Linked DNA regions of Homo sapiens: region 1 is linked to region 2. Evidence: fine-mapped expression QTL. A gene starts in region 2. The other region holds a variant in brackets. All regions are shown on one strand. Distances are between the middles of the regions.

Region 1 (5,376 bases), 25 kb after region 2:
GGTAGGTTTCAGAATTGTGCCCTGACTCTAGGTCACCACTGCTTTGCCCTCAGAGGCAGCCAGTTCTTCTGTCCTCTTCCTCGATGGCCTTCACCAGCCCACCCCCAACCCATGGGGGTTTAGGGTGTGAGCTGTGCGTGCGTGGCTGTTGCCTTCACGATGGCTATCTGGGGCAGTAGGACTGAGAGGGGACAGTGGCCCACTGCTCTCTCCTCCCCCCAGGACATGAGGGCTCACACCTCCATCCCCCTGCTGGGCTACCAGGTGACTGTTGGGCCCCAGGGGGACCCTCGGGTCTTCCAGCTACAGCAGTCAGGCCAGCTCTACACCTTCAAGGCCGAGACGGAGGAGCTGAAGGGCCGCTGGGTGAAGGCCATGGAGCGGGCGGCCAGTGGCTGGAGCCCCAGCTGGCCCAACGATGGGGACCTGTCCGACTGAGCCACTGCCAGCCGCTCTCCTGCCCACCTCTCCCCACCCTGAACCCAGCTCCTGCCACAGACTGACCCTGTGGCCTCAGTGACCCACTGCCCCAAGTGGTGCTTTCAGAGAATTGATTCAGCCATCTGCGCCCAGGCCACGTGTCCCGATCTGGGATTAGAAAATATGGGTCCATTCCTTTCTAGAAAGGGGACAACCAAGTGTCTCAGTTTGCCTTGCGGGGAGGGGGCTCCTGGGCCATGGGACTTCCAGTGCTAAAACTGGGAAAGCCCCAGGTAACCCCGGACTGGTGGTCACCATAGTATGGTTTTTCATTTGTATCTCCTGGGGAGCTTTTAAAGAGTACTGGTGAAAAACACATAGTAAATTAATTTTAAAAATGTAAAAAACAATGCCTGTACTGAAGTACCACCACCGATTTAAATGGGCTGAGTTGGGGGAGGCATGGGGTCTTTTTTTTTTTTTTTTTGAGACAGAGTCTTACTCTGTTTCCCAGGCTGGAGTGCACAAACATGGCTCACTACAGCCTCGCTCTCCCGGGCTCCAGTGATCCTCCCGCCTCAGCCTCCCAAGTAGCTGGGATTATAGGTGTGTGCCACTGTGCCAAGCTAATTTTTTTATTTTTTGTAGAGATGGGATTTCACCATGTTACTCAGGCTGGTCTCAAACTCCCAGCCTCAAGCGATGCTCCCACCTCCACCTCCCAAAGTGCTGGGATTACAGGCGTGAGCCACCATACCTGGCGCATGCATATTTTTTAAGAGTACCCACTGGAGTCTAATATATAGCCTGGGTTACCTGGGATGAAGAATAAAGAGAGCAAACTACCACAACCAATGGTTGAGCCCCTGTCAAGTGCCAGTCATGATAGTAGTAATAATAATAATAAACATCTATTGGACCAGGCTCTGTGCAAGGTGTTTTATGTGGATTATGTCATTTTACCATCCAGAGTTATCCCCATTTCCAGATGAAGACACCGACTCAGAGAGGTTTAGTAATTGGCTCAATTGGTCATGTAGCTCGTAGATGCCAGAGCCAGGTTTTAACCCGGTGAACTAAGGTCAAAGCTCTTTCTATCATGGAGCAGAACAATAAGACAAGCAGAGAGGGGAGGAGAGTGAGGAGAAGCAAAAGAGAGGGAAAGAGAGTGAAGAAGCTGGGAAGACAAGAGAGAAAGGTGAATGGTGGGAGGAAGGGTGACGGGAGGAGCATCCCTGTCCCCTCATCCCCACCTCGCTGGTGGGTGAGGATGCTTTTTCATAAGAGACCACCAGGGGGTGGCAGTGGTCAGCAGGCCACATGCAGTGGCCCCAGCAGTGGCCAGAACACCCTCAGCTGCTCTCAGCAGGTCCAGCCATTGCTGGGCTCTGCCCTGAAAGGAGGAAGCATGGATGAGTCACAGGTTTTTGTCCCATCACAGGCCCAGCAGCTTTGCCTGCCTCCAACCTGAGGCCACTTCCCTCCTGTAGGGTGTTTGTTTGTTTATTTGAGACAGGGTTTTGCTCTGTCATCCAGGCTGGAGTGCAGTGGTGTGATCAGAGCCCACTGGAACCTTGACCTTCTGGGTTTAAGCTATCCTCCTTCCTCAGCCTCCTGAGTATCTAGAAGCACAGGTGCACGCCACCACATCCAGCTAATTTTTAAAATTTTTGTAGAGATGGGGTCTCACTATATTGCCCAGACTGACCTCAAACTCCTGAGCTCAAGCAATCCTCCTGCCTTGGCCTCCTAAAGTGTTGGCATTATAGGCATGAGCCACCATGCCCGGACAGCATCAGCATTTTATTTATTTTTTATTTTTATTTTTATTTTTGAGATGGAGTCTGTCACTCTGTCACCCAGGCTGGAGTGCAGTGACGCCATCTTGGCTCACTGCAACCTCTGCCTCCCAGGTTCAAGTGATTCTCCTACCTCAACCTTCCAAGTAGCTGGGATTACAGGCGTGCGCCACCATGCCCGGCTAATTTTTGTATTTTTAGTAGAGACGGGGTTTCACCATATTGGCCAGGCTGGTCTCAAACTCCTGAACTCCGGTGATCCACCCATCTCAGCCTCCCAAAGTACTGGGATTACAGGCATGAGCCACTGCACCTGGCCTGCATCAGCATTTTAAAACTCGCCAATGATGCTGAAGGCAGCTGGCTCGGTGACAGCAGAGTCGATTCTGCAGCACTGATACCTAAGCTTTTCCAGGGGTTTAATCTGAGTGGGAGTATGGAGAGTGGCTTCACTGTGGAGCAAAATGAGGTAGCCGTCAGGAGAGGGAAGCGAGGGCACACAACCTTTGTGCTGTCATTGTTAGGTTTACTGAGGTGTAATTTACAGACTG[T/C]AAAATCCACCCTTATTAGTATATTTTCTAAGTTTTGGCAGAAGAGTACAGTCATACAGCTACCACCACAATCCCCCTATAAGTGTCCCCATGCCACCCTTTGTAGTCAACCCACACCCCTACTCCTTGCCTCTGGTAACCATTGATCTGTTTCTGACTGATAATTTTGCCTTTTCCAGATGTCATTTAAATGGAACCATAGCTTTTTAAGCCTGGCTTCCTTTACTCAGCATTATATATTTGAGATTCATCCATTTTGTTCTCCATGTCAGTAGTTCATTCCTTTTTCATTGCTGAGTAGTATTCCATTGCATGGGCATACCACAGTTGTTCATCTGTTTACCAGGTTAAGTATACTTGGGTTATTTCCAGTTTGGGGCAATTATGAATAATACTCCTATGAACTATAAACGTTCATGTTCAGTGTTTGTGTGAGCACGTTTTCTTTTCTCTTAGGTAAATACCTAAAATTGGGTCACTGAGTAAGTGTCTAACTTTATCAGAAACTACCAAGCTGTTTTCCATATTGGTTGTACCATTCTGCATTCCTACCAGCAATGTATGACATTTCCCCTGCTCATGCATTTGGTATAGTCAGGTTTGAAGTTTGTTTTTTTAAAATTAATAATTTTAGACATTCTGGTGAATGTATAGGGCTCATGACCTTTTAAATGTTTATGATACAAAGAAATGCATACAGGCTCACATCTGTAATCCCAGCACTTTGGGAGGTCAAGGCAGGAGGATCGCTTGAGCCCAGGAGTTTGAGTCTGTAATGAGCTATGATTGTACCACTGCACTCCAGCATGGGTGACAGACTGAGACCCTGTCTCAAAATGAAAAAAAAGTAGGTATTTTGCAAATGATTATTACCTACTATGTGTACCTAATACGTGCCAGGTAGTATACTACTTATACTACTTTTTCTTTTCTTTTTTTTTTTTTTTTGAGATGGAGTTTTGCTCTTGTTGTCCAGACTGAAGTGCAGTGGCACGATCTCCGCTCACTGCAACCTCTGCCTCCCAGGTTCAAGCGATTCTCCTGCCTCAGCCTCCCAAGTAGCTGACATTACAGGTATGCACCACCACGCCCAGCTAATTTTGTATTTTTAGTAGAGACGGGGTTTCACCATGTTGGCCAGGCTGGTCTCAAACTCCTGACCTCAGGTGACCCACCTGCCTTGGCCTCCCAAAGTGCTGGGATTACAGGTGTGAGCCACCACGCCTGGCAAGGTAATATGCTACTACTTTCCAAATCTCAGGGGCAGCTGATATCATGCAAAGGGCACCCCCTTGATAGCCTGAAAAGCTCAAATTCCAGTTCTGTTGAAGGCTTGACATAGGGTCTTGGGGATATCACCCAACCTCTTGAGCCTCCATGTATTCATTGTAACTTGACAAGCAGTGCCTCTTTGTAGGATTTGGTGTGAAAACCAAGTGAGATAATTCAGGGAAAGCTCCTAGCCCACAGACGGAGCTCGCTGGCTGGGAGTTGTTACTAGCTATGCTCTTCATGGACGTTTCTGCTTTCCTGGGACCATTTGTTCTGGCCGCAAGCCTGGTTGCTTCTACCTTCAGGATATACTGCGAACAGAGCCCGTCCTCACACCTCATACCCCTCACATGCTGTCACTTGGCCCGGCCACTGTGATATCTCTGGGGGTGATTGCTAGAGCTTCCCACCTGCCCTTCCTGCTCCCACACTTGTCCTCTGGCATCTTCACACAGATTCTTTCAAATCTGAAAGCTGAGCTAGTTTTCAGCTCCCAGCCCTCCAGTAGCATGGGGTTAGAAGCCCATCTAATGCCTCCCTCCGTGTGCTCCACCAGGCCCTTTGGGATGACCCCTGGCTGCTTCTCAGAGTTCCCCCTTCCCTTGCCCCATCTCACCTCCCTCCCTCAGCACACTTCCACCTCAGGACTCTTGCACCTGCTGCTCGTTCAGCCTGGATGCTGTTCCTCCAGAAATCCGCCCGATGCACTCCCTCACTTCTCTCCAGTCTCTGCCTCATTGGCCCTCGGACAGGCTTCCTTGTCCACCTGCCTCACGTAGTGCTCCTGGCAACTCTGCCCCTGACTCTGCTTCACATAATACAAATCGTTTTATCTATTTTGTTTCTTTCTTTCTTTTTTTTTTTCTTTAGACGGAGTCTCGCTCTGTCACCCAGGCTGGAGTGCAGTGGTGCGAGTGGCAAGCTCCGCCTCCCGGGTCCATGCCATTCTCCTGCCTCAGCCTCCTGAGTAGCTGAGACTACAGGCGCCCGCCACTGCGCTGGGCTAATTTTTTTGTATTTTTAGTAGAGACAGGGTTTCACCGTGGTCTCGATCTCCTGACCTCGTAATCCACACGCCTCGGCCTCCCGAAGTGCTGGGATTACAGGCGTGAGCCACCGCACCCGGCTTCTATTTTATGTTTCTTAGATTAGTGTCCTGTCTCCATTTTTGGAGGGCAGAGAGTTGGTCTTTTGTTCACTGCTGTTTCCCAGTGCCTGGCCCACAGCCAGTCCTCAATAAAAATCTGGGGACTGGCTGGGAGTGGTGGCTCACAACTGTAATCCCAGCACTTTGGGAGGCTGAGGCGGGCAGATCACATGAGATCAGGAGTTTG
Region 2 (5,376 bases):
TTTGGGGGTGTAGACATCTTGGCCTCTTTTTCCTGGAGGGAAGCAGCTCTGATGGTGCCTGTGCCATCTTCAGGGTTAGGGTATTGGAGGCCTCTTGAAGGCCCACCTACCCACCCTCCAGCCCCCATGGGAGGGGCAGGTCCCATTGTTCAGGCTTGGATGCTCAAAGCACTGGCAGCTGAGGGGTAAGACAATCCTCTGAGGCTTGGGGTGTGATGTCTGTCCATTCCACATGCCTTCTGAGGCCCCACTGTATGCGGGAAGGGCGCTGGGGTTGGGGACCCACCAGGAAGTGCACGTACTCAGGTGTGCCCTGCGTGGAGGGAGCAAGCCAGCCAGTGAGCAGAGAGACTGGTGGGAGGCAGAGGAGGAAATCCAGGAGAGGAACACCAGGGAGGGAGGCGCCCCCAGGCCAGGGAGGGCATCGGGAAGAAGTGGCATTTAAAGGTGATTCTGATCGAGCCTCTAGACCTAACCACCATCGACAGGAAATCCAGGGTATGGCGCTGCAATGGGCTAAGTCCTGGCTGTGGGACCTACAGGACAAACAACCCAGGGTCCCTCCACTATGCTGTGTGGGAAAACGGAAAGGACCAGGGGAACGTGTGGATGAAAAGTGAATTCATCCACGTGACAGCTCAGGGAATGTGTGGACCTTATTTGGATTCTGATTTTTTTTTTTAATTTAACATTTATAAGGAATTGGCACTTGGAATGTTTTCTGGATATTTAATTATATTGAGGAATTATTGCTAAATATCTCTTGGGGTATGATAACGGTAATATTATTTCATATGTATATACACATGGATATAACATGTAAAACATGTATGTCTATATAAAACAATATTACTATTATACATGTGTATATATGCATATACATTTATGTGTGTGTATATTTAGTTATTTAAAGGGTTCTTGGCTGGGCGCGGTGGCTCATGCCTGTAATCCCACTACTTTGGGAGGCCGAGGCAGGTGGATCATCTGAGGTTGGGAGTTCGAGACCAGCCTGGCCAACATGGTGAAACTCCGTCTCTACTAAAAATACAAAAATTAGCTGGGTGTGGTGGCACACACCTGTAGTCCCAGCTACTCAGGAGGCTGAGGCAGGAGAATCGCTTGAACCCAGTGGGGTGAAGATTGCAGTGATCCGAGATTGCAGCACTGCACTCCAGCCTGGGTGACAGAGTAAGACTCAGTCTCAAAAAAAAAAAAAAAGAGAGAGAGAGTTCTCATCTTCTAGATACACACTAAAATGTTTATGGGTAATGTCATCTGACATCTGGGATTTTCTTCAAAATGACATGAGAAGGCAGAGTCGATGTGGCTGCAGCAGGGACAGGGGACTGGCTGTGAGCTGAGGTTTGTTATGGTCTGGATTAGGGGTTCATGGGATGCATTATATGATTCTGTCTAGTTTTGCATATGTTCTAAATTCTCCATAATAAAAAGTAAAAAACAAAAATGGAGGTTTGTGAGACTTAGGGTTTGGGGCAGGGGGCCCGGCATCTGGTGGGAGAAACCACTCAGACGAGGCTTGGGGTGAGGGCGGCTGTTGGGCATGTGAGGCCCCAGGGGTTCACAGTTACTGGAGCGTGAAGCTGTTCCAGGCACTTCACGTACCAAGAGCACCGAGGCTCAGGCCCTGCACTCCAGGACACAGACCAGGTTCAGTGGAGAGCCCTGGTGGGACCAGAGCCCAGTGGGAGGGCCCTGAACGGCCTGTGGGGCTTGAAGGAGGGGAACAGAGGCAGCGTCCATTTGTTCTGTAAGGGCCGGGAGACCAGGTGGTAAAGGAGGCCTCAGGCAAAGACAACCCAGTGTCCTGGGATCAGGGAGGCCTGGGGATGGAGCAGCAAGAACATGGTCATCCAGGCTCCCAACGAACCTTTGCTGGAACTGTAGGACACCCACTTTTGCTTTGGAAATCCAACTTCTCTTGTATTCTTCCTGGGTGACCTTGGGCAAGTTACTTAACCTCTCTGATTCTGTTTCTTCCTATGTAAAGTGGGGATAGGAATAGTACCTACCTCATGAGGTTGTTATAGGATTAATAAGAAAATACTCATAAGCATGAAAAAGAGTGCATGTTAGCTATTATTATCCTCTGAGTTTCAGGGAGGAAACTGCCCTCCCTTGGGGCAATGAGGTGATGACAGCAACAACTAAAATGAGAGAACCCCAGTGGGGAGGTGGGAACATCACAGTACTCCCTGCCACCCTTACCAGGTTTGTGATTATTTTAAATAAAACATGCTGTTTCCTGGCCAGGCACAGTGGCTCACATCTGTAATCCCAGAATTTTGGGAGGCCGAGGCAGGAGGATCACCTGAGGCCAGGAGTTCAAGACCAGCCTGAGCAACATGGTGAAACCCCATCTCTACTAAAAATACAAATAATTAGCAGGGCGTGGTGGCAGGCCCTGTAATCCCGGCTACTCAGGAGGCTGAGGCAGGAGAATCGCTTGAACCGGGAGGCAGAGGGTGCAGTGAGCCGAGATCCCACCACCGCACTCTGTCTCTAAAGAATAAAAAAGACATTATTTCCTTACAGCTGTGAGCAGGGGCAGATGCAGAAAAGAAGGTGCTGGGAAAGAGGCCAAGTAAAAGCCACTGGACCTTCTGAAGGAGAAAGTGTGGTTGGCTGGAACCACTAGGCCAAGAAACCAGCCAAGGGTCTGGCTCCGGGTGGCCTTTTTTTTTTTTTTTTTTTTTAAGAGACGGTGTCTCACTATGTTGCCCAGGTTGGTCTTGAACTCCTGGGCTCAAGCAATCCTCCTGCTTCGGCCTCCCAAAGCACTGGAATTAGAGGTGCAAACCACTGCACCAGCCCAGACTGGGCTCCAGAAGCTACCTCTGGGCCCTGTTGCCACCTCTTAGGTGGCTTCTGGAATGGGGGTCTACAGGTGTGAAAGGTCAGCCCCCCTGAGGGAGAGGTGGGGCCCGAGCAGGCTCCTCCCACTGCGGGAGTGCTGGCCTTTCCCCTGCAGGGCTGTGGCTCTGGGACCACTTCCTCTTTCTTCACTCTGAAGCCAAGAGCCGACCTTCTGAGCCCTCAAGAAAGATCAGAACAGATTCATGGGTGATTTAGCCTATCTGTCCCAGGCCAGCGTGGCTGAGTGTGCTGGCTGGAGGCCTCTCTCTCTGCTTCGAGGGTAGCTGAGATCCACCCCGGAAACCGGCAGGATGAAGGGGGCAAGTGAGGAGAAGCTGGCATCTGTGTCCAACCTGGTCACTGTGTTTGAGAATAGCAGGTATGGGCAGCTGGGGTGGGAGGGTCACCATGGTGGGCTGGCAGCCACCCTCCAGCCTTTCTGGCAGCTCTCTCCCTGGGCCCTGCCCCGGACCCTCCTCCTGCAGGGGCAGCCCCGCGTTCCTCGGTCACGGATTCCTTGGAGCATGGGAGAGTGTCGGTGGGACACCAGGAGCCAGGCAGGGGTGAGAGTGCCAGTGTGTGTTGGGAGAGTCCAGACAGGTGTGGTTACGAGCAAGCATGGGCAGACCAAAGCCTGTGTGTGGGCACAGGACCCCACCCAGTGCCTGCCAGCACCTCTCAGAAAAGGTAGCTGATACTCACCAAGAATTTACGCCCTATGATTAGGATAACCATATAATTTATCATTCAGCACACAATTGAAACTGAAAGTAAATGCCAAATAAAATGTGGTGGTTGTGGGGGAGGCATTACAGGTAAAGCTGGGACCGTATGAGGCAAACCAGGATGTACGGGCAGCATCCTGATGGGGTACTCCCTACTCTAAGTTCATGTCCTTACTTATTTAATTTAGTCATCGAACAGCCTAATAGGGGTAGATTCTGTTTCTGTTCCCGTCTTATAGATGAGGAAATGGAGACACAGAGAGGTGAGGATGCCAAGTGCTTTAAGTATCTGGGGCAATGCTGGGGCGTCTGTCTGGAGGGAAAAGGCTGGGCCAGATGCGTGGAGTCATTGGTAGCCCTGGGAGCATGTGTGTTTGTGTGTGTGCGCGTGTGTGTATGTGTGTGTTGTGTGTTATGTGTGGCATCAATCCATTCTGCAGGCATTTCTTAAGCTCAGGACTGTGTTAGGGGCTGTCCCAGGTAGGGTTTTCTGGAAATAGACTCAGACAGAGGTTTGCCTCAGGTGATTTATCAGGGAGAGCTTTTGGGAACAACAGCTGTGGGTGTGAGGGAAGCAGGGCCGGGCAGGGGGAGATGCTGAACTGCAGTGCACCTGCCACAGAGGCCTCAGCCTGTCCCAGGGAGCTCTGGAGCTGGGATGCCTCTCGGTTGTTCCAGCTGAGGAAGAGGGCTGGGTATTTGTATCTCCATGTGGACTGGACAAGAGACTCTGGGTGAGGCAGCTCTCTCTTCCAGAGAGTGATTCCCAGAGAGGGACTCAGCCAATAAATTACCCGGCAGCCCCCAGTACTACCAGTAGCTGGTGGGGATGGTGTGGGGAGGCCTCATTCCTGAAGGAGGGACATGGGTGGCACAGCACAGCATCCTACAGGAACTGTAGAGGATGAAGAAGGGTTTCAGTATTTGGATGCTGAGCTCATCGAATAACTATGATGCAAGGTCATAGACAGTAGATGTCCTAGGAATGGCCCGGATGCTGTATTGAGGGCACTCATGGCAGGCAATGTTTCCTGTAGGCTTCAGGGTGGAGATGGCATAGATGTAGACCTAGAAGTCTTCAACTTCCTGAGCTGGGTGATTCTCCCCTGCCTCTCCCGGGATCTTTGCCAAGCTCGTCCTGTTCAGCACCAAAGACAGCTCTTGGGTGCCGCCTTCCTGGCCCACCACCCCCTTGGGTGTGGGTGGATGGTACCACCTCACTCAACATGCTTGACGTGGACTAGGCACACCTGGGTGGAGCCCCTCAGCATGCTGTGCTCTGCCCAGGCAATAACCCTGGCAGGAGTGGGCAGCCCTTAGACGGGAGTTAGGTCCCAGCAGGCATCAAGAGGGTGAGAGCCACTCCTTACTGAGTGAGGGGACCCATACCAACTGCCTTGGCCTGGGCTTCCTTATGAGGTCTCCAGCACCTCAGCTGATCTGAAACTGAGGGGCAAAGAGGAAACAGAAGCTGGCCAGGGGCCCTAGAACAGAAATGCAGAACCTGAAACCAAATGTAGAACAGAAAGCCTGAGAACCAGCTACGCCCATGAGCTGCAGACCCATGGGCTGAGAAACCAGGGACTGGGGTGCCAGGGAGGGGTGGGAGAGCCTGGGAGTAGCCACACAGCACTAGGTCCCAATGCTTTCGCTGCCACAAACCCAATTGTGTCACTTGGGGCAAGTCACTTTGACTCCGCGGACCTGTTTCTCCTTTACTCAAATGGGGAGGGGCAGGTTAGAGTGAAGGCTCAGGAAGCAGTCGCCTGATTTGAAT

The links.
Region 1: its variant is fine-mapped to the expression of FGD2 in whole blood (TOPMed, PIP 0.98).

Annotation. Positions count from the first base shown.
Region 1 is chr6:37,027,726-37,033,101 of GRCh38, forward strand. FGD2 (FYVE, RhoGEF and PH domain containing 2) reads left to right here. Exons shown (of 16, transcript NM_173558.4): 16 at 223-1,344. The coding sequence ends at 438. Among named protein-coding and RNA genes, the nearest start is that of FGD2, 25 kb to the left of the region's middle. RefSeq lists an enhancer at 1,918-1,997. The variant T/C (reference allele first, on the strand shown) is at 2,771.
Region 2 is chr6:37,002,633-37,008,008 of GRCh38, forward strand. It overlaps FGD2 (FYVE, RhoGEF and PH domain containing 2), which reads left to right and starts at 3,023. Exons shown (of 16, transcript NM_173558.4): 1 at 3,023-3,253. The coding sequence starts at 3,186. RefSeq lists a silencer at 2,621-2,783 and enhancers at 3,039-3,168, 4,989-5,158.